Linked DNA regions of Homo sapiens. Changing the gene in region 6 together with the main gene of any one other region gives a genetic interaction. Each region holds a gene or a part of one and is shown on either strand. Other genes may lie near its edges.

The links.
Region 1: changes in KCTD10 (region 6) and MRPL42 together harm fitness more than expected from each alone (negative genetic interaction), as found in Homo sapiens cells (one large-scale study listed by BioGRID).
Region 2: changes in KCTD10 (region 6) and PAFAH1B1 together harm fitness more than expected from each alone (negative genetic interaction), as found in Homo sapiens cells (one large-scale study listed by BioGRID).
Region 3: changes in KCTD10 (region 6) and GTF2E1 together harm fitness more than expected from each alone (negative genetic interaction), as found in Homo sapiens cells (one large-scale study listed by BioGRID).
Region 4: changes in KCTD10 (region 6) and BTF3 together harm fitness more than expected from each alone (negative genetic interaction), as found in Homo sapiens cells (one large-scale study listed by BioGRID).
Region 5: changes in KCTD10 (region 6) and PPP2R1A together harm fitness more than expected from each alone (negative genetic interaction), as found in Homo sapiens cells (one large-scale study listed by BioGRID).
Region 7: changes in KCTD10 (region 6) and KIF14 together harm fitness more than expected from each alone (negative genetic interaction), as found in Homo sapiens cells (one large-scale study listed by BioGRID).

Annotation. Positions count from the first base shown.
Region 1 is NC_000012.12:93,470,211-93,474,463, forward strand, and holds part of MRPL42 (large ribosomal subunit protein mL42 precursor), read left to right. Parts: intron 1-275; exon of another isoform or gene 276-380; intron 381-4,253.
Region 2 is NC_000017.11:2,666,371-2,670,153, forward strand, and holds part of PAFAH1B1 (platelet-activating factor acetylhydrolase IB subunit beta), read left to right. Parts: intron 1-621; coding exon 622-828; intron 829-3,783. UniProt on the Homo sapiens protein: Regulatory subunit (beta subunit) of the cytosolic type I platelet-activating factor (PAF) acetylhydrolase (PAF-AH (I)), an enzyme that catalyzes the hydrolyze of the acetyl group at the sn-2 position of PAF and its analogs and participates in PAF inactivation.
Region 3 is NC_000003.12:120,749,048-120,753,300, reverse strand, and holds part of GTF2E1 (general transcription factor IIE subunit 1), read right to left. Parts: intron 2,779-4,253; 5' UTR 2,749-2,778; coding exon 2,301-2,748; intron 1-2,300.
Region 4 is NC_000005.10:73,501,162-73,504,277, reverse strand, and holds part of BTF3 (transcription factor BTF3), read right to left. Parts: intron 1,791-3,116; coding exon 1,677-1,790; intron 1,363-1,676; coding exon 1,161-1,362; intron 1-1,160. UniProt on the Homo sapiens protein: When associated with NACA, prevents inappropriate targeting of non-secretory polypeptides to the endoplasmic reticulum (ER).
Region 5 is NC_000019.10:52,188,517-52,193,308, reverse strand, and holds the start of PPP2R1A (serine/threonine-protein phosphatase 2A 65 kDa regulatory subunit A alpha isoform), read right to left. Parts: upstream 3,258-4,792; 5' UTR 3,213-3,257; coding exon 3,135-3,212; intron 1-3,134. UniProt on the Homo sapiens protein: The PR65 subunit of protein phosphatase 2A serves as a scaffolding molecule to coordinate the assembly of the catalytic subunit and a variable regulatory B subunit.
Region 6 is NC_000012.12:109,456,306-109,460,558, reverse strand, and holds part of KCTD10 (BTB/POZ domain-containing adapter for CUL3-mediated RhoA degradation protein 3), read left to right. Parts: intron 1-2,477; coding exon of another isoform or gene 2,478-2,480; coding exon 2,481-2,567; intron 2,568-2,876; coding exon 2,877-2,929; intron 2,930-4,245; coding exon 4,246-4,253. UniProt on the Homo sapiens protein: Substrate-specific adapter of a BCR (BTB-CUL3-RBX1) E3 ubiquitin-protein ligase complex. The BCR(BACURD3) E3 ubiquitin ligase complex mediates the ubiquitination of target proteins, leading to their degradation by the proteasome.
Region 7 is NC_000001.11:200,600,064-200,604,316, forward strand, and holds part of KIF14 (kinesin-like protein KIF14), read right to left. Parts: intron 3,893-4,253; coding exon 3,776-3,892; intron 3,279-3,775; coding exon 3,163-3,278; intron 2,006-3,162; coding exon 1,833-2,005; intron 441-1,832; coding exon 293-440; intron 51-292; coding exon 1-50. UniProt on the Homo sapiens protein: Microtubule motor protein that binds to microtubules with high affinity through each tubulin heterodimer and has an ATPase activity. Plays a role in many processes like cell division, cytokinesis and also in cell proliferation and apoptosis.

The DNA.
Region 1 (4,253 bases), about 16 Mb from region 6:
TATATAGTTAGTATTTTCTCGAAAGCTTGTTAATACATGTTTGACAGTCAAAGCATGGACCCAAATAAGTAAATAGAGTATTAAAGTCTTTTTTCTCAGCCAACTGTGCTTTCTTTTTCCTTTTCCTGTCTGTAAACAGAGTTTATAGCTCTTATAAACAGCTCTTATAGGAAGCTTTCCATTTCTAAAGTAGACATGTATAGAAGGCAACAGTAGGTTTGCCTTTTTATATTAAACTATGTGAGCCAACTTTTTATTTTTATTTTTTATTTTAGATTCGGGCGTACATGTGCAGGTTTGTTACGTGGATGTATTACATATACTGAGGTTTGGGCTTCAACTGAACCCGTCACCCAAATAGTGAACATAGTACCCAATAGGTAGTTTTTCAACTCTTCCCTCCATCCCTCCATTCTGTTTTGAGTCCCCAGTGTTTATTGTTCCCATCTTTGTGTCCATATGTACCCAATGTTTACCTCCTACTTGTAAGTTAGAACATGTAGTATTTGGCTGTTTTTGCATTAATTCACTTAGGATAATGGCCTCCAGCTGCATCTGTGTTGCTGTAAAGGACATGATTTTATTTGTTTTAATGTCTGTGTAATAATCCATGGTATGCATATACACCACATATTCTTCCAGTCCACCATTGATGGGCTTGTTTCCATGTCTTCGCTATTGTGAATAGTGCTCTGATAAACATGCAAGTGCAGCTGACTTTTTAAATACAACTCTGCTTGACCTTGACCTTTGTCTCTTCTTTCTTATTTCCTATTTACCACCATTTGTAATTGAAAGTTTGCTTATTGAATTAGGGAGAAAAGAGCTATTTGAAGAATGGAGTATAAGTAAAGTAATAAATAGGCAATTTGTTATGCTTGAGACGAGGAAAATATTTTACTCAGTAAACACCTTTGTTGAATAGAATGCTCAAAAGTTTGCCAGATCCTACTCTATTTTATTTTATTTTATTTTTTGAGACTGGATCTTGCTCCCAGGCTGGAGTGCAGAGGCATGATCTTGGCACACTGCAACTTCTGCCTCCCAGGTTCAAGTGATTCTCCTGCCTCAGCCTCCCGAGTAGCTGGGATTATAGGCACCTACCACCAGGCCTGGTTAATATTTGTATTTTTAGTAGAGGTAAAGTTTCACCATGTTGGCCAGGCTGGTCTCGAACTCCCAACCTTAAATGATCCTCCTGCCTTGGCCTCCCGAAGTGCTGAGATTACAGGTGTGAGCCATTGCGCCTGGCCTAATTTTTGTATTTTTAGCAGGGGAGGGGTTTCACCATGTTGGCCAAAACTGGTCTCAAACTCCTGACCTCAAGTGATCTGCCCACCTCAGCCTCCGAGAGTGCTGGGATTATAGGCATGAGCCACCGCACCTGGCCACCAAATCCTGCTCTTATAGGAAGCTTTCCATCCCTGCTTCCTTGCTTGCCCCACTCTCCCATTTTTTAGGGCCCTAAACATAGAAACATTTATTACATTATATTCAAAGTAAAATCAACTTAGAATTCAGTAAATAGAACAGGACATTGCTTAAGAGACTTTGGATATAAACCAAAATAAGTCACAACAAAACTGCAATCAGCTTTTGATTATCTAGGAGCATTTTTGTTGTTGAGAATTGGGAGAAAGACCCTTACTCTTACTTCTTAGATTCCTCTTTGCCTTGCAGGAACCCAGCTCCTAGGCTAATGAGAAGTCACATCCAATCAGTTTTTACATAGACTATGTTTTGAAACAATTAGTCCTCACACAGGCCCATCAGAAAACCAGTTAATGTGTCCCTGAATAATTGAAAATTATTTATATATCTTTTTCCCCACTGGATTTCCCACTAAGTTTGTACTGGATCTAATTCATTTTGGTGTCCCTGGGGCCTCTCATTCATGATAGGAGATCTATCAGTGTTTGTTCAAGTAATCTGAATGGTTTAGAGTTAACTCTCAAAATATCTAGTTAACTAAGAATTAGGTTACCCTAGAAAATCATTCCATTATCAGTTATCCTAATACTCAGTGACCTAACTTCTTATATCCGAAAAGTCCCTTATACTGCAAAGTTCCTGTTGCTACTATTATTGAAAGTAAAGGGCTGGGCAGGGTGGCTCACACCTGTAATACCAGCACTTTGGCAGGCTGAAGCAGGCTCTGAAGTTTGAGACCAGGCTGGGCAACATAGGAAACCTCATTTCTACAAAAGTTACAAAAATTAGCTGGGCGAGGTGGTACACGCCTGTGGTCCCAGGAGGGAGCCAGCTTACTCAGGAGGCTGAGGTAGGAAGATTGCTTGAGCCCAGGAGTTCGAGGCTGTGATTGTGCCATTGTACTCCAGCCTGGGAGACAGAGTGAGACCCTGTCTCAAAAATAAAAAATTAAAATTAAAGAAAGTTTCATTACTGTTATTATTGATGTTTAATAAAAAAGGGAAGGACAGTAAGATTGGAGGCAAAGCGAAATCATGATTAAGGAAGAAAGTTCAGTGAGCAAAAATAAAAAGCCTTCCTTATATTCTAGAAGGAATATTTTAAAATTTCCCAAATGGTCAGTCAGCCCGGGAGTGTAGAACACTTCACAGTTTTCAAAGCATGTTAAGCCATTTGATCCTTATAACAGCTTTGATTTTGGTAGCCCATGTAGTATTATCCTCTTTATGAAGGTAAAGAAACTTGAGTTCTGTGGCCCTCATAAGTTCACCCAGGGTCACATATTTGGTAAACAAAAACTGTGACCAAAATCTGGATCTCCCACCTTACTTTGTCCTGTATACTTTCTACTGTACTTCCTTTTCTGTAGCAAGGTAAAATACTGAGCATTTGAAGATGGGACAACTTTTAGCTTTCATAGCTCTTTCAAAATGCAATTAAATATATATATGTAACAAGAATAACTCATAAATTACAGAAATTATTGTTAATTGAAATTCTTTTGGCACATTGAGCTTAATTGCTGTTAACTTTGGCATTGGTCCTAATTATATATTTAGAGCTTCTGCTACTTCTATATCCAGAATTACTTCCATTGGTAAAATATCAGGTAATGAATGTTTCCTTATTTTTTTTTCAAGGTGAAGTCTCACTCTGTTGCCCAGGCTGGAGTGCAGTGGTGCAGTCTTGGCCCACTGCAGCTTCGACCTCCCTGGGCTCAGGTGATCCTGCTATCTCAGTCTCCCAAGTAAGCAAGACTACAGATGTGTACTACCATGTCTGGTTATTTATTTATTTATTTATTTTTGAGATGGAGTTTCACTCTTGTTGCCCAGGCTGGAGTGCAATGGCATGATCTTGGCCCACTGCAACCTCCGCCTCCCAGATTCAAGTGATTTTCCTGCCTCAGCCTCCCAAGTAGCTGGGATTATAGGCATGTACCACCATGCCCGGCTAATTTTGTATTTTTAGTAGAGATGGGGTTCCACCATGTTGATCAGGCTGGTCTCGATCTCCTGACCTCAGGTGATCTACCCACCTCAGCCTCCCAAAGTGCTGGGATTACAGACGTGAGCCACTACGCTTGGCCTATGTTTTGTATTTCTTTGTAGAGATGGAGTTTTGCCATGTTGCCCAGGCTGGTCTTGAACTCCTGGGTTCAAGTGATCCACCTGCCTCAGCCTCCCAAAGTTCTGGTATTACAGGCGTGAGCCACCATGCCCAGTCCTTATGAATTTTTCAAACATCAGTTATGCAGAAACATTTGAGAGGCAGTTCGGCAATCACTTTTTAATGTGTAGGCACTATAGGGGACACAGTAATGAACAAGGTACAGTTCCTGGCCTTAAGGAACTTATTTAGACTTGTAGGTGAAACAGACATCTAGCAACACTAAGAATGCCCAGAATATGAGGCAGAATGTGATAAGTGTGTCATGAGGGCACAAACAAATGTCTGTGTAAACACAGAGTAGAAATTTTACTGAGTTTCTTGTTAACTAAAATACTGTTGTCTTGAGTTTTCTTGTCTGCATATTTCAGAACACTTAATTCTGTCACCCAGTCATGTTTCTTTCAGTGAAAATGTATATCATCTAGTTGGTTTATATTCAGAGATACAAAATTGTTTTTTTTTAATTTATATTTTTTATTATTAATTTTTTTTTAATAGAGATGGGGTCTCACTATATGACCCAACTATGTTGCCCAGGCTGGTCTTGAACTGCTGGATCAAGCGATCCTGCTGCCTTGGCCTCGCAAAGCGCTGAGATTACAGGAGTGAGCCACCACACCCCACCAGTTTTAATTTTTTTAGAAACGATT
Region 2 (3,783 bases), on a different chromosome or scaffold from region 6:
GGAGCCATTGTGATTAATGCTGGGAAAAGAACACTAAAATGTGCTCGTAGACAAGTTGTTTTTATCTCTGAGCTTTTATTTTTATCTGTAAATACAACAAATAATATTCCAGTCCTAAAATGGATACTTCATAGGCAAAGTTAGAATAAGTAAATAACATTGTTATGAGTTCATCATATAAAGCTCTTAGAAAAATGCTTAGCACATAGTAGATGCTCAATAAATATTAGCTTTTATTAATATTATTATTACCATATATAATGTGGTTTGGAAAGAACTTACTAAGAGTAGCAGCCTTAGAGGGACCAAGACAAATTCACTGCCCTTCTCTAATTAGTAGAGGACTCTGTCACCAGATACAAATCGAAATTTTTCTTTTTGTTAAAGAGTTAAGGCAATTGTACTGAATTTTTCTCAATTTTTAGTTTCCTCACATGACTTAGATTTTGATGCTGTACAAAATAAATAATTTTCATTTAAATTTGACAAATGCTTTGGAGATTACTGAAATTTTTTCAAGTATCCTACATACATAGTTGCAAAATAAAGGCAGTTTTTTAAAATGTCACATGCTATTTTTATTGAAATCTATCTGTACGTAACTACATGTTCTTTTTCAAGGTTATGGAATTAGAATCAAAGCTAAATGAAGCAAAAGAAGAATTTACGTCAGGTGGACCTCTTGGTCAGAAACGAGACCCAAAAGAATGGATTCCCCGTCCGCCAGAAAAATATGCATTGAGTGGTCACAGGAGTCCAGTCACTCGAGTCATTTTCCATCCTGTGTTCAGTGTTATGGTCTCTGCTTCAGAGGATGCTACAATTAAGGTAATTTTTTGTTAAAAGCAGACTTAACGGGAGGCTGAAGCAGGAGAATGGCATGAACCCGGGAGGCGGAGTTTGCAGTGAGCCGAGATTGCACCACTGCACTCCAGCCTGGGCGACAGAGCCACACTCTGTCTCAAAAAAAAAAAGCAGACTTAATAGGGTGAAGAAAATTAAAAGATCCTGAAAATGAGGGCCTATGAAGAGGGACAGGAGGTACTCTGAAACGTGTGATTTGGTTCTAAATCTTAAAAGACAGAATTGGAATAAAATATCATTGTGGCTCCTGAGAGGCATGCTGCCAGGTAAGTTTGATGGTGAATTTGAGAAAGTCGGGTGTCACTAACTGAGTTGATGTCAGTACATCACCTTGTGCTTGAACAATTTTTGTTCTTGGAGAATGAAAAGTGTGTGTCTTACCTTTAAACGGAGGTTATGTGTGAAATACTGATTGACAAAACTAGTAATTGATAGGGTGAATCTATACTGCAAAAGAATTCAGTAGAGGATTCATTTAAATTGGGCTTTCCTTGATGTATTTAAAATTGGCTTTCCAGGAGTGTGGGAATATACAAGCTTTTCATTTTATAAATTACGTATTTCATTAAAAAATTTTTTTCACAGTAAAAATATTATTACCTTTTAATGTTGTGCTTTTTTAATTAGGAAAAGAGTTGTTTTTAAGTTGCCTTTGTTCCGGACACAATAAAATGACCGTTGTATAAACCACCTACAGAAAGATAAGATAGTTGCAATATAGGTAGATTTAGGTAGATGCCTCTATCCTAAGGGTTATTTCAAAGTAAGTTACAGATATTAAGTTTCATTTACAAAAGTATAACCAATCGGCCGGGCACGGTGGCTCACGCCTGTAATCCCAGCACTTTGGGAGGCCGAGGCGGGTGGATTGCCTGAGCTCAGGAGTTCAAGACCAGCCTGAGCAACACGGAGAAACCCCATCTCTACTAAAATACAAAAAAATTAGCTGGGCATGGCAGCGTGCGCCTGTAGTCCCAGCTACTTGGAAGGCTGAGGCAGGAAATTCGCTTGAACCCAGGAGACAGGTTGCAGTTAGCCAAGATCGCTCCACTGCACTCCAGCCTGGGCGACAGAGCGAGACTGTCTCAAAAAGGTAGTTACAACTAACCAAATAGTAACGACGGTTTGGCCTTACTACTAACAGCAGAAGAAATAAACACTGAAATTATGGGCCGGGTGTGGTAGCTCATGCCTATAGTCCTAGGACTTTGGGAGGCCAAGGTGGGAGGACTGCTTGAGCTCAGGAGTTAGAGAGCAGCCTGGGCAACATAGCAAGACCTCGTCTCTACTTAAAATTAGCCAGGTATGGTGGTGCATGCCTGTAGTCCTAGCTACTCAGGAGGCTGAGATGGGAGGATCACATGAGCCTGGGAGTTGGAGGCTGCAGTGAGCTATGATTGAGCCAGTGTACTCCAGCCTGGGCGAAGAGTGAGACCCTGTCTTAAAAACAAAAAAATTGGACTGGGCACGGTAGCTCATGCCTGTAATCCCAGCACTTTGGGAGGCCAAGGTGGGTGGATCATGAGGTCAGGAGATCGAGACCATCCTGGCTAACATGGTGAAACCCCGTCTCTACTAAAAAATACAAAAAATTAGCCGGGAGTGATGGCGGGCTCCTGTAGTCCCAGCTACTCGGGAGGCTGAGTCAGGAGAATGGCGTGAACCCGGGAGGCGGAGCTTGCAGTGAGCCAAGATCGCGCCACTGCACTCCAGCCTGGGCGACAAGAGTGAGACACACATACATATATATGTGTGTCAAATTGTCAAGGTATTTTACCTATTAAATAAGAATTCCCAGTGATGATAAGATTTTGATAAAGTAGTCATTCTCATTACATATGATACAGTCTTACGGGATATCAATTTAATAGAGTATATGAAGGCTTTAAAAGTTTATACTTTTTGACCCACTAATTGTTTCTCCCCATTACTGTCTGACCTAGGTATTATAAAATGAGGACAGAATTTTTTTATATTAAAAAATGTTCACTATAATGTTTTCTATAATAGTGATTTAGCCAGCAATTAGAATTTTTTTTTTTTTTTTGAGATGGAGTTTCACTCTTGTTACCCAGGCTGGAGTGCAGTGGTATGATCTTGGCTCACTGCAGCCTCCGCCTCCCAGGTTCAAGCAATTCTGCCTCAGCCTCCCGAGTAGCCGGGAGTACAGGCGCCCACCACTGTGCCTGGCTAATTTTTTGTGTTTTTTAGTAGAGACGGGGTTTCACCATATTAGCCAGGATAGTCTCGAACTGACCTCGTGGTCCGCCCGCCTTGGCCTTCCTAAGTGCTGGGATTACAGGCGTGAGCCACTGCGCCCGGCCATATTTCATTTTTTAACTCAAAATGACATATGCTCTTGTTCATTTGCTATTCGTGAACAGTTAACATCTTCTGAAATCTTTCCTTGGCCCTTTAGATGTCTGAGTTCTGATGGTCTAGTAGGATCGAGTATTCATCCATTGTTCCTCAAATATTCTACATACAAATGCCTGCTATAGCCCTCTGAAGCTCCTTCCCTTCCCCTTCCCTTTCCCCTTTCTTTCCCTTTCCTTTCCATCTCTTTCTCTTTCTTTCCTCTTATTTCTTCCCCTTAAGTTTCCTTATTTACATGTCATTCCTGCTCTGAGACAGGGAGCGGACTATGTCTTGTGACTTTATATACCTTATCACTATTACAGTTGGTTATGTGATAGAAACCTTATAAATGTGGTTCTAGAGATAGATTTTAATAATTGCAACATTAGTTTTCCCTGTAGAAAAAAAGACCAATTTATACATGAGATACAATATTTCTAAAATAGTTATCCTTTGTTACTTGTTCGGTTAGTTACTCAGTAAGGTGCCAGACTGGCCTGCTGAGTGCAAATGTGAAACAAGAAAGGAGTGATGGAGTTGGTGTTAACCAATTTTCTGTTC
Region 3 (4,253 bases), on a different chromosome or scaffold from region 6:
CTACACACACCAAATTTTTATTGCCCATCTTCTTCATAATGGGGTGGGAGTAGAGGAGAGGACAGAGAGATGAATACCGAGCAAAACAAGAAAGAATAATAGAGAAAAACACAAAGATTTCTAAAAGGAATGTACAGACCAAAGGAAGTTGTTGGGTATTAATAGTTTAAAAAAAAAAACAAAAACAAAACTCAAAACATCAGAACTGGCAAACTAGAGCCTAATATCACCTAATCAGCACATTTTCTCCTTAAAGGAGCATCTAAATGAAAAGCCACGTTACAATAAAAAGGCAAGTATGTTCTCAGAATGAGGGTCCCTAATGATTATAAATTTTTAATCATGATACCTCAGGCTTTACTGTAGGACATAACTGCCAATTAAGCATTAGTGTTGGCTGACCAGGGCACCCTCCCCTGAGTGACATTAAGATTAAGTGGCTTATTCTTGCTCTCAGGCACCCCTTCTTTTCATCTTCATGCTGACCATAGCCCTCACATTAAAAATAGTCTTTGTTCAGACTGGCCACAACACAATTGTTTCAGTTTTAGCTTTATTTCATAAAATACTTTCATGCCCTCTACCCTAACTCCTTGATTCAAGTCACCTTGACTGTACTGGATGGAATGTTAGGCCATCTCTTCCACAGGCCATCTATTGAGTCAACTAGTTTCATTCAGAATCCAGGTGAAATTCAAGAGTATCATGATCAGTCTCCCAAATACTGATATATAAGTAGTGGAATCATCTCCTTTTAGAAAGTTTAATTAAATTAATATGACTCAAATGACAAATAAATGTAGTAGAAGCATGTTATTTTAGATTACTCTAAGGGACTGGATAACACCTTCTACTGTGGTCAAGAGTGATGAAGCCTCCACTGTTAAAACCAACATCTGTAGAGAATTACAAAACCAAGAACCCAGAGCTCCTGTAAGAAATCTGTTAGAGTGAATGGCAAGAATCATGAGACTTTTCTAGTCTATTTTGAAGAGCTCCAGATATATTCTACAACCTTCCTCTATAGAACACTCAAGCAATTCTCATACCGAGGATGGTTAAGACTTTCTTATAATCAAGATCTCTCCTTGTGGAGCCCTTTCAAGGTAAAAAGCTCGGCTCAGACAAATTAAATGTTTAATACAATTGTGAATTCCTTAAATCAGTTTTCATCCAAAATCATTGCCTCACAGTAAATAAGAAAAAAAGGTCACAGATTGCTTCTGGCTCTTTTTGTCAATAATCTTAATTTATATTGGGGTTATTTCCCACTTAAAAATTTTTTTTAATTATTTAAAATGTACCATATATAACATAAAAATTAGAAAATAAAACATACACAGAAATCTGTAATTTTGCACAACCAAATATTTCATGGGTCAAAGTTTAAACTTTCAGACGAAGTTTTTAAAAAAGCAGATCTATGAACTAAAAAGTAGCCTATACTCCTGAATTCAACCATAACAAAGGGACTTAATCTAATTTAATAGCACTGAGTCCTTCTATAGATTTTTACCTGTAGAAAATAAGACAAAATTGATCGAGTATTTAGCAAAACTAGTCTCTTTTTTATTGTGTAAACAGATAACAAGATAAAATAACTATATAACTCAGAACTTTAAAGTTTCTCATGTTTATGCTAGACATATTGTATTTTCAGATAATGCATGCTTTCTAAATTGTGTTATGAAAAATCCTTAAAACTATTCAATCAAATCAGGCCAATTATATATCTTGTTGACAATTTTCTTCCAACAATAATGTGTATCTAAAGGACACTAAATGTCTTATCTTGGAAAGAATTCCCCTCTTATTTCATCTAGCTAACTCTTACTATCTTTTAGGTCTCAAATGTTAACTTCTTCCAGAGGCCTTCCCCAAATCCAGATTATATGCCCTAGTTATATACTCCTGATACCACTTTCTACTTCCACTAACAAAGCATTTAAATACACTGTATTGCAACTGTCTAGAGGTCAAAAATAAAATTAGAACAGCCTCAAAGTGGTAGAGAAATCAACCCTTCAGATTAGGCTGCAGTTGTAAACAAGGTGGGGTGGGCAGAGGCAGGAGGGCCATAAGTGAGAAACTCCCTTGTAAAGGAGAAACGCTTTGCAAAGGCTTCTCAAAGTAGTGCGACAGCCAAACAGGACAGTAAGACTGACTGTATGCTGTGATTTACACTGATCCATTCACTTTTATAATAATATATATGATGGTTTAAAAATTAGATGAATCAATTTAAGAAAAAAGGTAATACACACTTTATTTTAAAGATTCACAAACTGGATAAACCTCACCTGTCATAGGATCAAAGAGCTGATTAGCTTCTAAGTCTGTGAAAGTACTACTACAGACAGGACATTTGAAGGAAGCCCGGTTGGTCGAATCTCTCTCATCGGTCTCAATTCTTCTTCTCATGTGGTCCAGTTTATATTTTACCACATTAACAAGAGTACGATAATTGATGAAGTAGTAGTTATGGCGAGTGGTTTTCCCGTCTGCAGCAGTCTCTACCCTCATTCTGCATTTGATAAACTTGTCTCCCTTTAAATTATTCAAAACTGATCGAAGTTGCTTCCGATCAAACTTGAGCAGCTCCAGCATATCCTCCTCTTTCACACAGGAGTTCCTGATCAAGATGTCCAAGGCCAAGGCATGCTCAATGCCATAAAATCCCCGGATCACATACTTGGCTAACCGCTTCAATGCTGCTGGAACTTCAGTGAGGACATCTGGGTCTGCCATCTTTAGCAACGAACTCCAACTTTAAATATACTGAATTCAAAAAAAAACAGAAAATTAGCCAGGTATAAGAACATGGTAATCATATCCACTATCCTTGCAGTGCCAGAAAAGTACCCAAAGTGTTTAAAAAGATTTCTAATACCTAAGCATTTAACAGAGCAGAACAAGATTTTCCTCTAGAATGCACAAAAGATTACACCCAAAAAGCTTTACATATTTCTTAAATGGCTACTTTTATGATCTATAGTGTGTTTGATTAAAAAGTAACTTTTTATTTATAAAACAATATATTACGTCAAGTCTACTTTACTTCAGAAGAGAAACACAAAAAAAGCTACATGAAATGCTCACTATTCTTTGGGAATGCTGGAAACCCTGAGAAAACTAGCAGTTCGCATTTCCTAAAAGTGTCTTTGTTTCCTTTCTTGAGTAAAATTTTTCTACCAAGATTCTAGGATGTTTTACATAGTCATGCTTTCACAATAAAATCACAACAAACCAATAAACACATGAGTAATCACCACCTGGGGTGTTTGACAAAATCATTAACTGTTGTAAAACTGAAAGAAAGTAATACTTAGATCCAGACAGTTTTACCAACCTTGAAAAATTGAATCTGATAATCAAGGAAAGACCATCCAGTCCTTAAAAAGGTAGAAAATGAGGGAGGGAGAGCAGCCCAAAATATTCTTAAATACTGGATCCCTTGACAAAGCAGAAACTAAGTGTATCTCATTTCCGTACCATGACCCAGAAAGCTGTCTTCTCAAAGCCCACATTGGCATATAGTTTACTTTAAAAACCTGGGCTTCGGGCAGAGACACAACCAAAAAGGAGAATTTTAGACCAATATCCTTGATGAACATTGATGCAAAAATCCTCAATAAAATACTGGCAAACCGAATCCAGCAGCACATCAAAAAGCTTATTATCCACCATGATCAAGTGGGCTTCATCCCTGGGATGCAAGGCTGGTTCAATATACGCAAATCAATAAATGTAATCCAGCATATAAACAGAACCAAAGACAAAAACCACATGATTATCTCAATAGATGCAGAAAAGGCCTTTGACAAAATTCAACAACTCTTCATGCTAAAAACTCTCAATAAGTTAGGTATTGATGGGACGTATCTCAAAATAATAAGAGCTATCTATGACAAACCCACAGCCAATATCATACTGAATGGGCAAAACCTGGAAGCATTCCCTTTGAAAACTGGCACAAGACAGGGATGCCCTCTCTTACCACTCCTATTCAACATAGTGTTGGAAGTTCTGGCCAGGGCAATCAGGCAGGAGAAGGAAATAAAGGGTATTCAATTAGGAAAAGAGGAAGTCAAATTGTCTCTGTTTGCAGATGACATGATTGTATATCTAGAAAACCCCATTGTCTCAGCCCAAAATCTCCTTAAACTGATAAGCAACTTCAGCAAAAAGTCTCAGGACACAAAATCAATGTACAAAAATCACAAGCATTCTTATACACCAATAACAGACAAAAA
Region 4 (3,116 bases), on a different chromosome or scaffold from region 6:
AAAAAAAAAAGAACAGATGAAATGCCAAGTGTTGTTACAACTTATTTCCATGATAAGGGACATTTGGGATTTTATCTATGATACTATCAATAACATGATATTCTAATGTCTACAAATGGGTTAAAATACTAGGAACAGCCAACAAACAAAATTCCATACCCATCCTTTCAATCCCTCTGGGCCACCATAGGCCCTGAGGTAGTATAAGGGCAGTAGGGAACTCTTAGAGTGCAGGTAAAACCCACATACCAAATCATGGTGAGATTTTGGGAGACAAATGAAGATGCCATTTTCTCAACTACTCTGTGTGTGGCATAAGGGTGATGCTCAACAACCACTTACTGAAATGAAAAAAGTTAAAGTAAAAAAATTAAAGAGTCTGTGAGTGGTAAGCATCCACTCTCCTTTATCACACAAGAATATGAACGTACACAGGAGAGTTATGTACTAGGCCCATACAGGCATCAGTGGGATACTTCAAAAGCCTATTTCAGCTCTGAAAGCCCTGACAGTTTAGAACCTGCAACTCAATGTGATAATAAAAATGAAAATTGAGGCAGATTAAGTCAATACCTAGAAAAACATGGGTAACTAAAGAGCCATATATAAGCCTCTGACTTCCTCCTGCATTCCTATTCTTCAAAATTTTAAGCACAGAAAACAGCATAACACTGCCACATCCTCAGATGTATATTCAGCTACACTATTTTCTGCCCCGAATAAAATCCCTATCACACTGTAATTAAAAATGCCAGAATACTGGCAAGCCATTTTTAAAAGATTACTGGTAATACGAACTATATAGATGAAACTGAAGTAATTTCATAATTTACACTAATTTTTTTTTCAATTCCAAACTTACAAGTAGTTATTGGCAAAGCACCAAATTAACATTTTCATCATTTCTAGTTAATAAAGTATCTGATCCAAATCAAGTAAGTAGAAAACATTCCACAAAATCAAGTGTAACAATCATGGCACGCTACATCAATTACTGCAAACTTGAGCAAGGACAGTTGCTTAAAATCAGTTACAAATCTGTTATTTTTAAAGCTTGCATTTCCAAACTTAAAAATACTCATATCCATTCTGAGCCCTGAGATCAGAAATCAGCTGCTAAATGAGTAATTCCCTGGTAAAACCATTACTAGGAAACTCACATTGTTTGGGCAGAGCTTCGGCCAGTCTCCTTAAACTAGTCAGACTATCCGCACCAAGCTGGTTTAAGATGCTGGGTAGCATTTCTGTCAGCTGCTTTGTCTCAGCATGGCCTGTAATGGTGAAAGTGTTCGCTGCCAGAGATGCCTGAACTTTAGGGTTGTTAAAGTGGATCACTGTTCCTTGGTTTGTAAACATATTCACCTATTAAGAAAAGAAAAATTTAAATTAGCAATGCTGACCAGTCTCTTTAAAAACAAATGTTTTATTAAACTAAGTCTGGCTAACTAGTATTTCACTGTGAAGCACAGGTGAAATTTTGCCTGGAATGGAATATGTATTCTAATAGCATTCAGACTTAATGAGCTCCCTGATATTTATTAATTTATGGTAGAAACACATCTTAGGGACTTTGAAGTCCCTAAGTTAAAAAAAAAAAAAACAACCCATTTAATGCATTAACGTTAACTTTTCCCAGCCAAATCTTGTTTTTTAAAGTAACAAAATTTGATACTTGCCTCTTCAATACCAGAGATATTGTTTACCCCTAACTTCTTTAAGGAGAACTGAAGTTTTTTGTCATCTGCTGTGGCTGTTCTATGAACCACCTTCTTCTTTCTGCGAGCAGTTCCCTAAAGTCAGGGAGAAGAGGAAAGAAAACAGCACATTTATACCACAACAGATATTTTTCAAATGGGAATAGTTTCCAATTCATTTCTGACCTTTGGATCTGTATAAGAACATTACCATAATCATAAACTTATGCAGTGAGCAGGCAGGCTAAGGCGAAGATAGAAGCAAAAAATGGGAAAGGAAAAGAATGATCTTTTCAAAGTTCTACTTTTTACATTTGCTCTAAAAGTGATCAAAGAGGTAGCATGTGTCAATCTAAATTAAGCATTTGAAAGAATTCCACATCCAGAATTATTAACCTCTTCTGTTTTTTTTTTTTTTTTTTTTTGAGACAGGGTCTCACTGTGTCGTCCAGGCTGGAGTGGCGCAATCTCGGCTCACTGCAACCTCCGCCTCCCAGGTTCAAGTGATTCTCCTGCCTCAGCCTCCCGAGTAGCTGGGATTACAGGCACCACCATGCCTGGTTAATTTTTGTATTTTTAGCAGAGATGGGGTTTCACCATGTTGGCCAGGCTGGTCTCAAACTGCTGGCGTCAAGTGATCCGCCTGCCTCGGCCTCCCAAAGTGTTGGGACTACAAGTGTGAGCCACCGCGCCTGACCCCTTTTCTGTTTTTATATTAAATAAAAATCAACATCCAAATTAATATTTACAGGCAAGACAGTGTATGGAACAATCAAATGAATCTGTATATAGACTTCTATAGGACTCGATAGTAAAGTCTGAAGCCCTTACCTTAACTTACAAGAGCCCTACACAAACTGTCCTGCCCTTAATATGCCACTCCTGACTGCATCTGCTACCATCCCTCTTCTTTAGCCAATAAACCTTGGCTATTCTTTGAACAGGCCAAGCAGGCTATGACCCAAGGGCCTTTGCACATGCTGTTCCTCTCCTTCCGGAACATCTACATGGCTCTTTCCCTCACTGCAGATCTCTACTCTTATGTCACCTGATCAAAGTGGTCTTTCTCAACTACCCAAAGTAAAATAGCAACTTCCACACTCACTCATCAATTTCTTTCTATCCTGGTTTATTTCTCTTCATAACACTTATTACTATAAGAGATAAATACATTTTATCATCCATCTCCTCTCCCTAGAATGTAAGCTCCATAAGGACTTCTGTTTATTGCTATAAACCCAGTATCTACAACAGTATCTAGCTCACTGAAGGCACTCAAGGAAAGTCTATCACACCCAACCACCTCACCGTCCCCCAACCTCCATCCCTATTCCTATTCATCCTTTAAAATCTTATTCAAGTCATTACCTCCTGTTTGCCTTTCCTAAATTCTGCAATTACCCCCTTTCCCTATGCCAAATC
Region 5 (4,792 bases), on a different chromosome or scaffold from region 6:
CTCAGACACAATTAAAATGTCTGGCATATGAATATAATCAGCAACCGTGTGTCCCACCCCAGATTCTATTCCACCCTTAGGTCCTACTTCCTTTCCTGGCTCCTTCATTTCTCAGCTGCACAGCTTTGGCCATGTTATTTATGGTGCTTCAGTTTCCTCATCTGGAAAATGTGGACAAGGACAGGACCTACTTCAAAGAGTGATTGTGAGAATTCAGTAAGATCGTCAGTGATATTCCTCTGTACTGTACCTAACATAGAGCAAGCACCCAATAATTTGTTACGCAGATGGTTTAAGTCAGAGGTCAGCAATTTTTTCCCTGCAAAGGGTTAGACAGCAAATATTTGAAGCTTTGCGGCCATCTCTGTTACAACCATGCAACTCTGGGCTGTAGCACAAAAGCAGCCATAGGAGCTTCCAGACAGATGAACACCTCGCGGTTCCTGGGGGGTGGAATGCCTAGGGAGGGCATGGAAGCTCCACACAACTTCCCCCACACCTCACCCTGCATGTGTCTTCATCTGTATCCTTTGCAATATTCTTTAGAATAAACCGGTAAGCTGCCTAGCTCTGATCCTGGCACAAAGACATCTCCCTACAAATGTCTGCTGGTTAGTGGATGGATGGATGAATGAAAAGATGGGAGGATAGATAGCTGAAGGAAGTGATCCTGGAGTTAAAAAAAACAAAAAACTGGCCGGGCATAGTGGCTCACGCCTGTAATTCCAGCACTTTCGGAGGCCGAGGCAGGAGGATCACCTGAGATCAGGAGTCTGAGACCAGCCTGGCCAACACCGGGAAACCCAGTCTCTTCTAAAAACACACACACAAAAATCAGCCAGGCGTGGTGGCCTGCGTCTGTAGTCCCAGCTACTCAAGAGGCTGAGGCAGGAGAATTGCTTGAACCCGGGAGGTGGAGGTTGCAGTGAGCAAAGATCGCGTCAGTGCACTCCAGCCTGGGAAACAGAGCAACAAGACTCCGTCTCAAAAAAAGAAGAAAAAAAAAAAAAGGCCATTACATATCTGTTCCCTCTTCCTGGGAGGCTCTCCCCCACCTTCTTTCAATCTCTTCTCAAACTCTGCATCCTCAGAGGGGCCTTGCCTGATTGGCCTTCTTAAAATGGATCTGCCCCACCCCACTTTGTACTTGCTGTGCCCTCTGCTTTCAGGCGTGTTCTCAAACAGGATCTCAACAAGGCCTCCCCTGACCACACTTTAAAACTGCATGCCCTATATATACCCCATCTCTCTTATTTTTATTTGTCTCCCTAATGCTTATCCCCAGTATACTCTGTTTATTGTCTGTCTCTCCTCACTACAAAATAAACTCCCCAAGGCCTAGAGTTTTTTCTGTCTTGTTCCTGCTATATACCAGTGCTTAGAACAGCGCCCTGCACAGAATAGAGGCCCAATTCAATATGGATTCGCTACCACTACATCCTATTTGTTTCCTTCCCATCACTTTTCAAACACTCATCTATTCAGCTCTGCTGACCTGTTTCACATCTGGATCCTGTATAGCAACTGGTGTCTCCACTATATCCCCAGCATCATATCTCATACATGGCATATATTTACTGAACAAAAGAATTCATACAACCGCCCTATGAACTAGGTAATTAACCCCATTAAAGAGAAGAGGAAACAGGCCTAGAGAGATTAACTAACTTGCCCTTGTCAATCAGTAACAAGTGGAAGGGCCGGGAATACAACCACAACCTGTATGCCACCAGAAACAGTGATATACCAGGAACCTAGGAGGCGAGACCCACGTTTGGCAGGTTACCCAGTGCACCTTGTCCAATTTTATAAATGGGAAAACAGACCTAAAGGGAGGATGGGACCTCTTTAATCACCACTCCCAATAATTACAGCTAATATTTATCGAGCCCTTACAACAGGCCTGACACCATTCTACTTTTTATTTGTGTCATAATTCGTTCAGTCCCTCACAAGTCCCTCCAGCAAGACCAGGACTACAATTAGCCCATATTTTATGGAACACAGAGACCCAAAGCGGTGAAGTAATTTGCACAAGGTCACACAGCAGGTGGGAGGTGGACTTGCAGTTCTAACTGTTCTCAATCCCACACCAGCCCGGCTCAGAGCCTTGGGTCACCTCATCCCATAACCAGGAATGTTCATCCGGGCTGGGCGCGGTGGCTCACGCCTGTAATTCCAACACTTTGGGAGGCCGAGGCGGGTGGATCGCTTGAGGTCAAGAGTTCCCGACCAAGCCTGGCCAACATGGTGAAACCCCGTCTCTGCTAAAAATACAAAAATTAGTCGGGCGTGGTGGCTCGCGCCGGTAATCGCAGCTAATTAGGGAGCTGAGGGGCGAGGATGGTTTGAACCCGGTATGCAGAGGTTGCACTGAGCCGAGATCGCGCCACTGCTCCCCAGCCCCAGCCTGGGCGACACAGAGACTGTCTCAAAAAAAAGAAATAAATAAATGTTCATCTGCTTAGCAAATCCCTCAACCCCTATCCTGGTCAATGGGAGGATCCGGGGAGATGGGGAGGCGGGTTTCTACAACCTAATTCGCTCCTAAACTTGGCTAGTCCCCACCTTTGGTGGGGGGGTGTTTTTGCGTCCCCGTCCTCTTAGGACACCTAAACCAAAATGAGAGGCGGAGGAAGAGCAGGAATTAGGATGGCAGGCCTTCGCCTCTCGGTCCCCACTTGGCCCAGCAGTCGAAACCCAGAAAACAAAAAAACCTTCCCAGGTCCCGACCCACCCGGCGGCCCTCCCCTACTTGGAGCAAGTCATGCGCGCCCCACATCCCCAAGAGGCCATTCAGAGGCCGCCGCCAATCACGGAGTCCTCCTCTCTCCCAGACCCAGTCCGCAGACCCCAGCCCTGGCCACAACCTCCCAGGACCGCGGACCGCCGCGCGCACAGGGCAGGCCCGGGACCCTCGAGGCTAGCGCTGGCCCCCGCCCTCCACTGGGCCGACACCCAATCGGGAGCGCCGTCTCAAGGAGTCCGGGCAACCGGGGAGATAAGAGACGCACGCTGATTGGCCGTCGCCCCCTTCCGCCACTCCCAGCGAACGCTGAGTCTTCTCCGCGAGGGCCGCCCGTGCCCCCAGGTACCCCTCCGCGTCTTCCCCAAGTCCCCCGTAGCCTCCGGACCTGAACGTCCTCATTGCGGAGTTCGTCTATGAGCACCGCGATGGGGTACAGCGAGTCGTCGCCGTCGGCCGCCGCCATCTTGGCTCCGTCCCTTTCCTGTCAGACTGCGGCCAGCGCTGTGCTGAAACGTGGGGGGGGCAATGCTGGGAGAAGAAGGAAGGGCGGGCGTGGGGGCGCCCGAGCCAGTTTACAGGGGCTGCTCCACGGCCATTGGCCGCGCTACCCAGGGCTAAGCTCGCGTTTCTTTGGTCCGGACTTGTGAAGTCCCGCCCACTTCCGATTTGCCATTGGTCGAGTGAACAAGATTTGACTAGTTTGAGCCTAGGAGAGGGGGAAGAAAGCGGAAGTTAGCCGTGTCCTAGCGACCAAGATTGTACCCGCCCTGGTCGCTGCTAACAACGACCGAGACGAGCAGTAGTTTCTAGCCAATGAGGGGCGACATGGGGAGGAGGCTAAGCCTGCCCTTTCTTGAGTCCCCGGGAAGGCTTCTGCGCGTGCGTCGGTGGTAATACGTGACGTCCTGTGGGGAGCTGGAGGGTGTGCAGGTTTTGGGTTACCAGGCCGTGGTTCCGCTGGCTGGCTGGCTGGCTCTCCGCGCCGTTGCGCGGCAGGAGGAGGGAGTGAGACTTTGATTTGTGCTTGATTTATGCCAAGGCCCAGAGAAGGGAGCGACTTGCCCTTCTCTCTTTTTTCTTTTTCTTTCTTTTTTTTTTTTTTTTTTTTTTACTTTTTTAAAGACAGGGTCTCGCTCTGTTGCCCAGACTGTAGTGCAGTGGCAGGATCTTGGCTCACTGCCGCCTGGACCTCCCCGAGCTCAAATGATCCTCTCGCCTCAGCCTGCAGAAATAGCTGGGACTATCGGCGCGCGCCGCTAGGCCCGGCCAATTTTTAAAAAAATGTTTGTGGAGACCGAGTCTCACTGTGTTGAGCTCAGTTGCCTTGCTGTTTGGATGAAACCCAAGCCCCTCGGGCTGGTATTCAATACCCTGTCTAGGCGCGTCTCCCATCTGTTTTTTACCTTTTATCTGATGTCCTGGAGAATTACAGCTGCCTGAGCACTTCTTGCGTTTTCATGCCAGCAAGCCTCCTTGCCCAAGCTGTGCGTTCTGCTAGGGGTGCCTTTCATATTCACTTCTGAGATCTCTGCATAAATGCCTCCCCTTTACTCCCTTTCCTCTCTGTCTTCAGGCTCTGTTCTCTAGGCTTCCAGAGCCACAGAACCCCTCTCTCTGTCTCTCCAGTCCCATCTATCTCTCTGTCTCTCCAATCCCATCTCTCTCTCTCTCTCTCTCCAATCCAATCTCTCTCTCTGTCTCTCAATCCCAGAGCCTGGGCTGTGACTATGTATTCGAATTTGTTTCCTCCATAGAGTGGGAGCAGGATTGGATCTGACTAATCTCTGTTTTTAACCTCTTCAACACAGCCCTACCCCCCCACCGCAATCTTAGGACCACTCTAACTGAGGGAGTTGAATGGGGATGGGAAGGCCTGGGATGCTCTTTCCTCCTTTATTCTGCTACTTGAAGGGCTAGGCTGAGCTAGCACTCTGACAGATCTGAATACCCACAGCATCTATTTCTTTTTTCTTCTTTTTCTTTTTCTTTTTTTTTTTTTGAGACGGAGTCTCGCTCTGTTGCCCAGGCTAGAATGCAGGGGCC
Region 6 (4,253 bases):
AATGGGGGCAGTTTCTGTCTGACTGAGATGTTGTGAGAGTTAATGAGTTTGCCCTGGAGCCCGATTCCTTCGGTTGGAGTGACCCCTGAGAGGCCTCCCTGGAACAGCAGGCCACCTAACTACTGTGTCACTCCTTGCAGCCCCATGCTGTTGGATCTTCTCATGTGTACATCTCAACCCTTCAGCAGAGAACCCCGCGGTGTGAAACTTGGTCGGTGTTCGGGACCAATCTTAGGGCTTACTCTAGTCCCACAAGTCATTGTTGGGAGCTCAGCATAATCTCTACAGACAGACACCCCTCACTCCTTAGCTAGACAGAGCAGGACCACTGGAGTCAGGTCTGGTGACAGTAAAATCCCACAAAAACAAAATGCTTCTAGACATGGCCAACACCCCTTTATTTCAAACAAAGTTGCAACGTGGCAGAGCATCAGAAGCATCCCTTTGGGTTTTCGTAGGAATCTGGTCTGTGTGCATGAGGCCCTTGTTTGGGCCTCCCCCACACCACATGTCTGTGTCTGGCCCCGCACCGGACCAGTACCCATAATGCTGCACACCACCTCTACTCTGAGAGTCTGAACTCACTGCAGACCTAACTGAATGTTGCAGCATTTACTTTTTTATTATTACTACACTGTTGAAAGTGATGCACATGCATCCTTCAAGAAGTCAAATAGTGCTGCAAGGTTAACATCAAAACACCACCATACCCCTCCTACTCTCCTTCACCCTTGCAGTAACCTCTGTGAATTCTTTCAGCAGTTTTTTCTGTTCACATTTATGTTTCCACATAATTCGCCTGTGCTGCTCTTTATTGAATTCCCAGTTTTTGACATTATCTACTGGCATGACTATAGAAACTAGAATTTAGCTCACGCACTGCCCCTACCTCTACCCCCACCAAGCTTAGGCATACTTTTCCTTCTCCCATTCTCCCAGTACAGTTCATCACAGTTTTGGTTAAATTCAGAGTTTACGTCATGACGTGTAAATACGGCTGACAGTTAAGCCACAGAGTGTACAGTGATTATTTTCTTTCTTCTATAACTTTAAGTTTGCCAGAGTTAGGGATTGCCTCATTGTTTTGTTCACTTGGTTTTCTAAATATATGTTCCTACTTCAGCCCCACGTTCTCAGCGGTCTCATAGTGGTGTGTTCAGACACATCAGAGGTTCTGTTTCATCTTTGTCTTGGAGACATGCCCCTGGGTCTCGTTTCTGTTAGTCTAAGGTTAGACCTCCAGGACTGACCTCCTAATTCTTTCCTCTTAGTGTCTCTGGCTTTATCCTTTTGTTCTACTTTCTCAGAAGTTTTATTTTTCACCTTTTCAACCCTTCTATCAAAATTTTCATTTCTGCTTCGTCTTTCTAACTTCAGGAGCCTTTTCTTGCTGTCCGAATGCCCTGCTTTCCACAGCGTGCTCATCTTGTTTCCTAGGAGGCCGTATCTGCTCTCAACTGTCTGATGATTCTGTTTGTTTTCTTTCTTCTCCCTTCATTATCTGACTCCTCCTCTTTTCCTGTCTTTGTTTTGGTTTTGTTCTCATGTTAAAGAGGCTTTTCACATGTAATCTGATGATGCTTGGCTGTCTGTTGAAGGAATGAGAGACTCTGAAAGCTGTTTGTGCATGGAAGGTCCTTGTTGTCCACTGGGCTGCATTGTGGGTGATAAGGCAGACTTTTTCAGCGGGACCCCCAACTGTCAGAATCTGTAAGCCATTTTGGGGGAAGCAGGTGGTGTTCCTGAAGAGGAATCCTCTACTCTCCTCCTGCCTGACGGGTCTAGGCCTGGCCGGCTGCCTTTGGGGATCTGGAAGGGGAAGGAGCTGGGGTTGCTCATCACTTAGTGTGATGTTCACTTGTCCCCCCGTTTTCAGAATCGCAGCTCAGCCCTGTCCTCTACCGTGCAAACCACTGCAGGAAGATGGCCCTTTCTTCTGCCTGCATGGGGACGGAGATGGATTTGGGGATCTTTCCAGTGCTTCCGCCCACTGGTTTCAGCTTTCCCCCTCTCCTTGGTTAACGCTCACCTGTGACCTTTCTACCCTCAAATTTTTGACTTTTTTTACTGGTCTGCTGACCTCACTTCTCCCATTCTTTTTCCCCTTATGGGTTTATGCTTTTTTTTTTAATTCCTCTGCAGTCATGGTAGTGGGGTTTTAGGAGCTTTTGATTAAAACACGTTTCTGCTGCCACGTCAAGGGTTTATTTTTGAGTGGCTTCCTGGGCTGTGGAAAATGTGTCATCATTGTTAGTACTTACTCAGCATCCTGGCCTATCATGGTCATAGCCAAAGAGCAGACTTACTGGGAAATTCAACTCCCTGTCTTCCCCCATCTAGTTCACTGGTGGTGAGAATCCTTCTCTCTTCCCAGCCATGACTGCCCCATCTCCCCTCGCCAGAGCCTGTCCAGCCGGTCAACTTTAAAAATGCAGTGCTAGGCAGGCCTCCTAGGCTGAAAGCATGTTTTGTTCCAGCAGAACAAAGATACTTATGAGCCTTTCTGCAAGGTCCCTGTGATCACCTCATCCAAGGAAGAACAAAAACTTATAGCGACTTCAAATAAGGTATGTTGGAGGCACCCTTGTGGAATTTCTTTTGCTACCAGAAATGATGGAGGTTCTTCTGAATAACTTTTGAAATAAAAACATGTATAATTGCCTGAGTGAGGCCTGATAATGGGTTCACAGTGGGAAGCTACAGGTCATCTTTTGTGCCCCTGCTATTGGGTCATGTGGTCCCCCTCTCCAGCCAGCAAGCTATGCTTGTCTGCCTCTTCTGATGCAGGGCAGGGCCCCAGCCCTATGGGAAGCTAGTAGTTCATTGCATCTGCCTGCCAAGTAACTCTCTTCTTCTTCTTTTAAAACAACCCACAGCCAGCCGTGAAGTTGCTCTACAACAGAAGTAACAACAAATACTCATATACCAGGTAAGGCGTCAGCCGGGAAAGACAGCTCCATTTACTAGGAAAACCTCCACTCACACCAGCCAGGCCCAGCTCTTCTTCGTACCTTCAGATGAGGATGACCCCTCTGTACCTCTCTGCCTGGATAGATAAGTAGACAGATGGATACAGGGGTATAACTCTGAGCTATAATTCACACATATCATAAAAGTCATCTTTCTAGAGTGTACAGTTATTATTATATTCACAATATGTGGTTTTTATATATTCACAAGTTGTGAGGCCATAACGACTATCTAATTTTAGAACTTTTTCACTGCCTGAAAAGAAACCCTCTATTCGTTAGCAGTCACTCCCCATTTTCCCTCAACCATTGCTTCCCCAACCCCACAGCCCTAGGTAACCACTAATCTGTTTTCTGTCTTGATGAATTTGCCTGTTCTGGACATTTTTATGTGAATGGAATTGCATAATATATGGCCTTTTGTGACCAGATTCCTTCATTCAGCATAATGAGATTACCTAAGAGGTTTTCAAGGTTTATCCATGTTGTAGCATGAATCAATACTTCATTCCTTTTTATGGCAGAATAATATTCCACAGTGTAGACCACATTTTCTTTACCCATTCATCAGTTGATGGACATTTGGGTTGTTTGCACTTTTTGGCTATTGTGTGTAATGCTGTTATGAACATTCATGCAAAGTCTCTATGTGGACTTACGTTTTCATTTCTCTGGGAACAGAATTGCTGGGTCATGTGGTAATTCTATGTTTAATCATTCGAGGACCTGCCAAACTGTTTTCTAAAGTGGCTGCACCATTTTACATTCCCACCAGCAATATATGCAGGTTTCTAGAATGCCATTTGGCCCTTGAAAACATGTGGCTCTAACTCAGGAACTTGAGGGATGCAGGGAGGATTTAATCAGGTTACTCAAGATCTTTAAAAAGACCTAGGATATAGAGTCTCCCTTGGGCAGTGCCATTCTGCTCCTCTTGGGGCTCGGTGAGGTGCTCTCCTCCACCTGGTGCCTGTGCCCAGAGGCTGTCACTCAAGCACAATGGTTAGGAGCACTCAGGCTTAGGGGCCAGGGCTGTCTTTTGGGGGGCGTGTCTGCCATTTATTAGGTTCAGCCTTGAGCAATTACCTAATTTCTCTGATCCTCACTTTCCTTCTTGAGTGATGGAGATTGGAGTGCCTTTGTCATGGGATTATTGTGAGGTTGAAATGAGGTAGTGGAGAAAGTGGGCTCAGTAGGGCCCTGCGTGTAGAAGGGCCCAGCAAATGATGGCAGTTTTTACCAGCTTGTGGTCACCGTATCAAATGCTCTTTTGCAGCAATTCTG
Region 7 (4,253 bases), on a different chromosome or scaffold from region 6:
TTTCTTGAAGTTTTCTTTTTTCAGCTTGTTCAAACTTTTCTTTCCACACTCTTTCCAAAGACAAAGAAAATAACAGAGTTAAAAACATCCAGATGTATAAGATTGAGAGTCAAGAGACAATCAATGAAAATTAGGCAACTACCTAGTAATATTTAAAATATGATAATCTGGGAGTGGGCTGCTCTATTCATAAGGAAGGTCGGAAAAATACTCAGTATCCTCTTGAGGTCCCTGCCATTCCTATGATTCCAGAGCAACACACTTAACATTTAGAGTACTGACTGTACTCTACCTTTGCATTTCTGCCATGTCTCTCTCCTGTTGATGCAGTTTCATTCTTAAGGATGTTATTTCTTGCCGACAGAGCCTGTATCGTTCAGGGTCAATATTCCGACTGTTTCTCTGAGCAGCTTTTAGCTTTGCAATTTCTGCCTTCAATTCTGAAGATTTATACAAAGATGCATTAATAATAACATTTAATATATAACAATTTCCACAGTAAGCATAATCCTCCAATCTTCTATTTCATTTGAAGTTTTAAATACAGTATTACTAAATAAAATAGAATATTGGAGAAATCAGCTCTACTTTATATAACCTATAAATCTTTACTTAGTCTTAACCTGAAATATGCTCCCATATTAATGAACTTTCCCTGTTCATAAGTAGGAAAGCTGTATAATGTACTGACCAAAGTGGAACACTTTTGAGAGGCAAAAGGGTAATTGTTAAAGTGAAAGTTTATTTAAAAAGTAAAGAAATAAAAGAATGGCTATTCACTAGGCAGAACAGCCAAGATCAAAGATTTTTCAAGCTGGAATTCAGAATATTTATTTATTTATTTATTTAGACAGAGTCTCACTGTCTAGAGTGCAGTGGTACGATCTCGGCTCATTGCAACCTCCGCCTCCTGGGCTCAAGCAATTCTCCTGCCTCAGCTTCCCGAGTAGCCAGGATTACAGGTGCCCACCACTGTGTCTGGCTAATTTTTGTATTTTTAGTAGAGACAGGGTTTCCCCATGTTGGCCAGGCTGGTCTCGAACTCCTGACCTTAAGTAGTCCGCCTGCGTTAGCCTCTCAAAGTGCTGGGATTATAGGCATGAGCCACCATGCCCGGCCCAGAATACTTATTTTTAATGAAAACAGTCCCACTTGTGAAACAGAAGGGATCCAAAAGGGAAAGGATGGACCAGGATAGACAAATCAGATTCTTCTCTGGCTCATACATCTGAAGTGTCTATCACCTTCTGCTGCTAAAAAGGGCCAGAGGACAAAGGGGCATGAAAAGATGATAGTTCTACATCAGCAAAGATAAAACTGTACAAATCAAGATTTCTTGCAGGCATTAAAGTCTATCCTAAATTGATGATTACCTAGAGATAAATAGAAAGCAGTATTTAGCATAAATGAAGTTCAGCCTATACTAGAAACTCGAGCTCCAATTGCCTTTGGATCAATGAACTAAGCATGAGCAGAGCTAGTACATAAAACGTCAATGGAAGAGAGGTCATAAGAGAAAAATAGTAAATAGTTTTATTGGCATTTTGCTGCACACGTCTATGACTGTGTAAATTTATTGTTTAATGCTTACTGTTTCCCCCTTACTCACACTCTGTTTTCTATGTTCTTTTCCTAATTGTTTTTCTCCTTATTACTTATTATCTGTCCTTCTACCTATCATCCTCCATCACTATAGGCTGATGACTAGAATCTATTAAAATAGGTATAGAAAAACACCTTTGATGTTCATAAATTACATATTTTAAGACTGCAACTAATATCTGGGACTAAACTGTGGCAAAACAATTTTTAAATTCTGAGAAAATATTCACCTCTAATTAACTTAGCGTTCATATCTTCATTTACTTTAGCAATGTTGACTATTAAACGGGCTTGGTTAGCATATCTAAGTGTGCTTAATGTTTCTTCTATGTTGCTGGCAGCGGGACTAATCGTAGCAATCATTGCAGTTTTTGAATTTCCACCCAGACTTTCTTTTAACAGCCTACAAGAAAAAAAGTCATAAGACTTTGCTTCTACAACAACTTAATAACAGTAATTATCTAGAAAGCACAAAACAAACTAATAGGGTATATAATACAGTATTATTATACTCTACTCAAATACCATTTAAAACTTTTCTGGTATTTGTAACTATTTCTAGATCTCATAAACACTTTTTCTCTCTTACACTTTTTATATTGTTTCAAGAGGCAATAATCTGTGCAGAGATTCTAAAATGTGGTGGATCATCAAGTATTTCATGACTGTGAGCTACCATAGGGAAGGGACTATGTGTCTTGGTCATCTTTGTATTTCCAGTGCTACCACAACCTTTTGAAGCAGGTGCTCAATAAATGTTGAAAATGATGAACATTGAAACAAAAATTCTATATTGTACTAAAAGCAAAATCTTTATTTTAGAGAAAAAGAGTATGAGACTTAAAACATATATTAGTGCAGAATGAATGTCACTATTTTTAACTTTCATAAGACATGAAAAAAATCAGATTTTCCCTTATAGGTTTCAAGGTGGCAATCACATTGTAATAAACCAATTATAAAGACACATTACCCTCAAGTAAAGATGCAGTCCTTATTGTAACTGTATATTAATGCCTATCACAACTGAATATTAAATCCATACAGATGTAATCTGAATGTAACATATTGAAAATTAAATATACATTCACTAATGAAAACATTTATTGAGCACCCATGTATTAGTCACTGTGTAGTAAGCAAACAAAATTATTCAACTTCTCTTTATACAACTAGCAATATGTTTGGTAGTACCATATATGTTCAAACATCAGCCACAAATAATAGTTAAGTACAAGAACAGTTATTTACACTCATATAGTACATATTATGTATTAAGAATTGTACACTAATAATCTAATTCTCACTTACCCCTAAAAGGTATTGATTTTATTCCTATTTTACAGATGAGGAAACGGGCTAGAATATTAAGTAATTTGCCCAAAGTCACAGAGCTTATAAGATGCTGAGCTGAGATTCAAATCCAGGTAGTTTGGCTCTAGAATTCATAATGCTTACCACCTTTCTCCATCCCAAAGTTAATGAAGTCAGTCTATCATTCTTTTCCCCATAGTATTCACTATATTTTATACAATTCTTTATACTTCAAAAGATACTTGCCATGTAAGAACAGATTCACGATAAGGAATAAAAACACTCCTTTGGTTTGCTTGTTCCGAAAGTGCAGATATAACTTTTCCCAAAGTTAGCAAGGACTTATTAATACTCACACCTTCCTGCATGCAAGAAAAAAAAAATTTTTAACTTAAAATACTTCTCAGCAAGAAATTTATTTCACAAAATATATTTCTCCCCTCATATAATTACTGAGTAAATACTTTTTTACTTTCTTTTTTTTTGAGACAGAGTCTCACTCTGTTGCCCAGGCTGGAGTGCAGTGGCATAAACATGGCTCACTGTAGCCTCGACCATCCAGGCTCAAGCAATCCTCCCACCTGAACCAAGTAGCTGGGACTACAGACACATGCCACAATGCCTGTCTATAAATACTTTTTTCTATAAACTACCAACTTTCTTATGACTCAAACGTATTTTCTTTAAAAATTAATCATAACCAAAAAGTACGTATCTCTTTTTCAACCACAGCAATGCAGTCTATAAACTGCAGATAAAGATATATTTGGGGAGGTTAAGTGTATTCAGTTTGTATTCTCCTTAAAATAATGACCTCAGGAATAAATTTCATCAAAAGGAGAAAAAGCATTCCATTTACCTTTAGTCGATCTCCATTAGTGTGAGCCGTAGAGCAGCGCTCACTGCCTGCCAGATCTATTAGGTTAATTCGACTTGTTATTCTGTGATCGTGTTCTTCCCCTTCCACAAATTCTGTCTACAGCAAAATGATATTAAATTAAATTAAGTTCTATTACTTCCAATCAATATAGGTTTTTTTAAAGGGAAAGCTGTAAAAGATTACACATCACTCTTTTATTTTTTAAATAGTCTCTTCTTTTTTTTTGAGACAGGGTCTCACTCTGTTGCCCAGGCTGGAGTACAGTGGCATCATCACGGCTCACTGCAGCCTTGATCTCCTGCGTTCAAGCAATTGTCCCACCTCAGGCTCCCAAGTAGCTGGGACTACAAGCACATGCTGCTACACCTGCTACTTTTTTTTATTTTTTAGTACAGACAAGGTCTCGCTATGTTGCTCAGACTAGTCTCAAACTCCTGAGCTCAAGTGATCCTCCTGC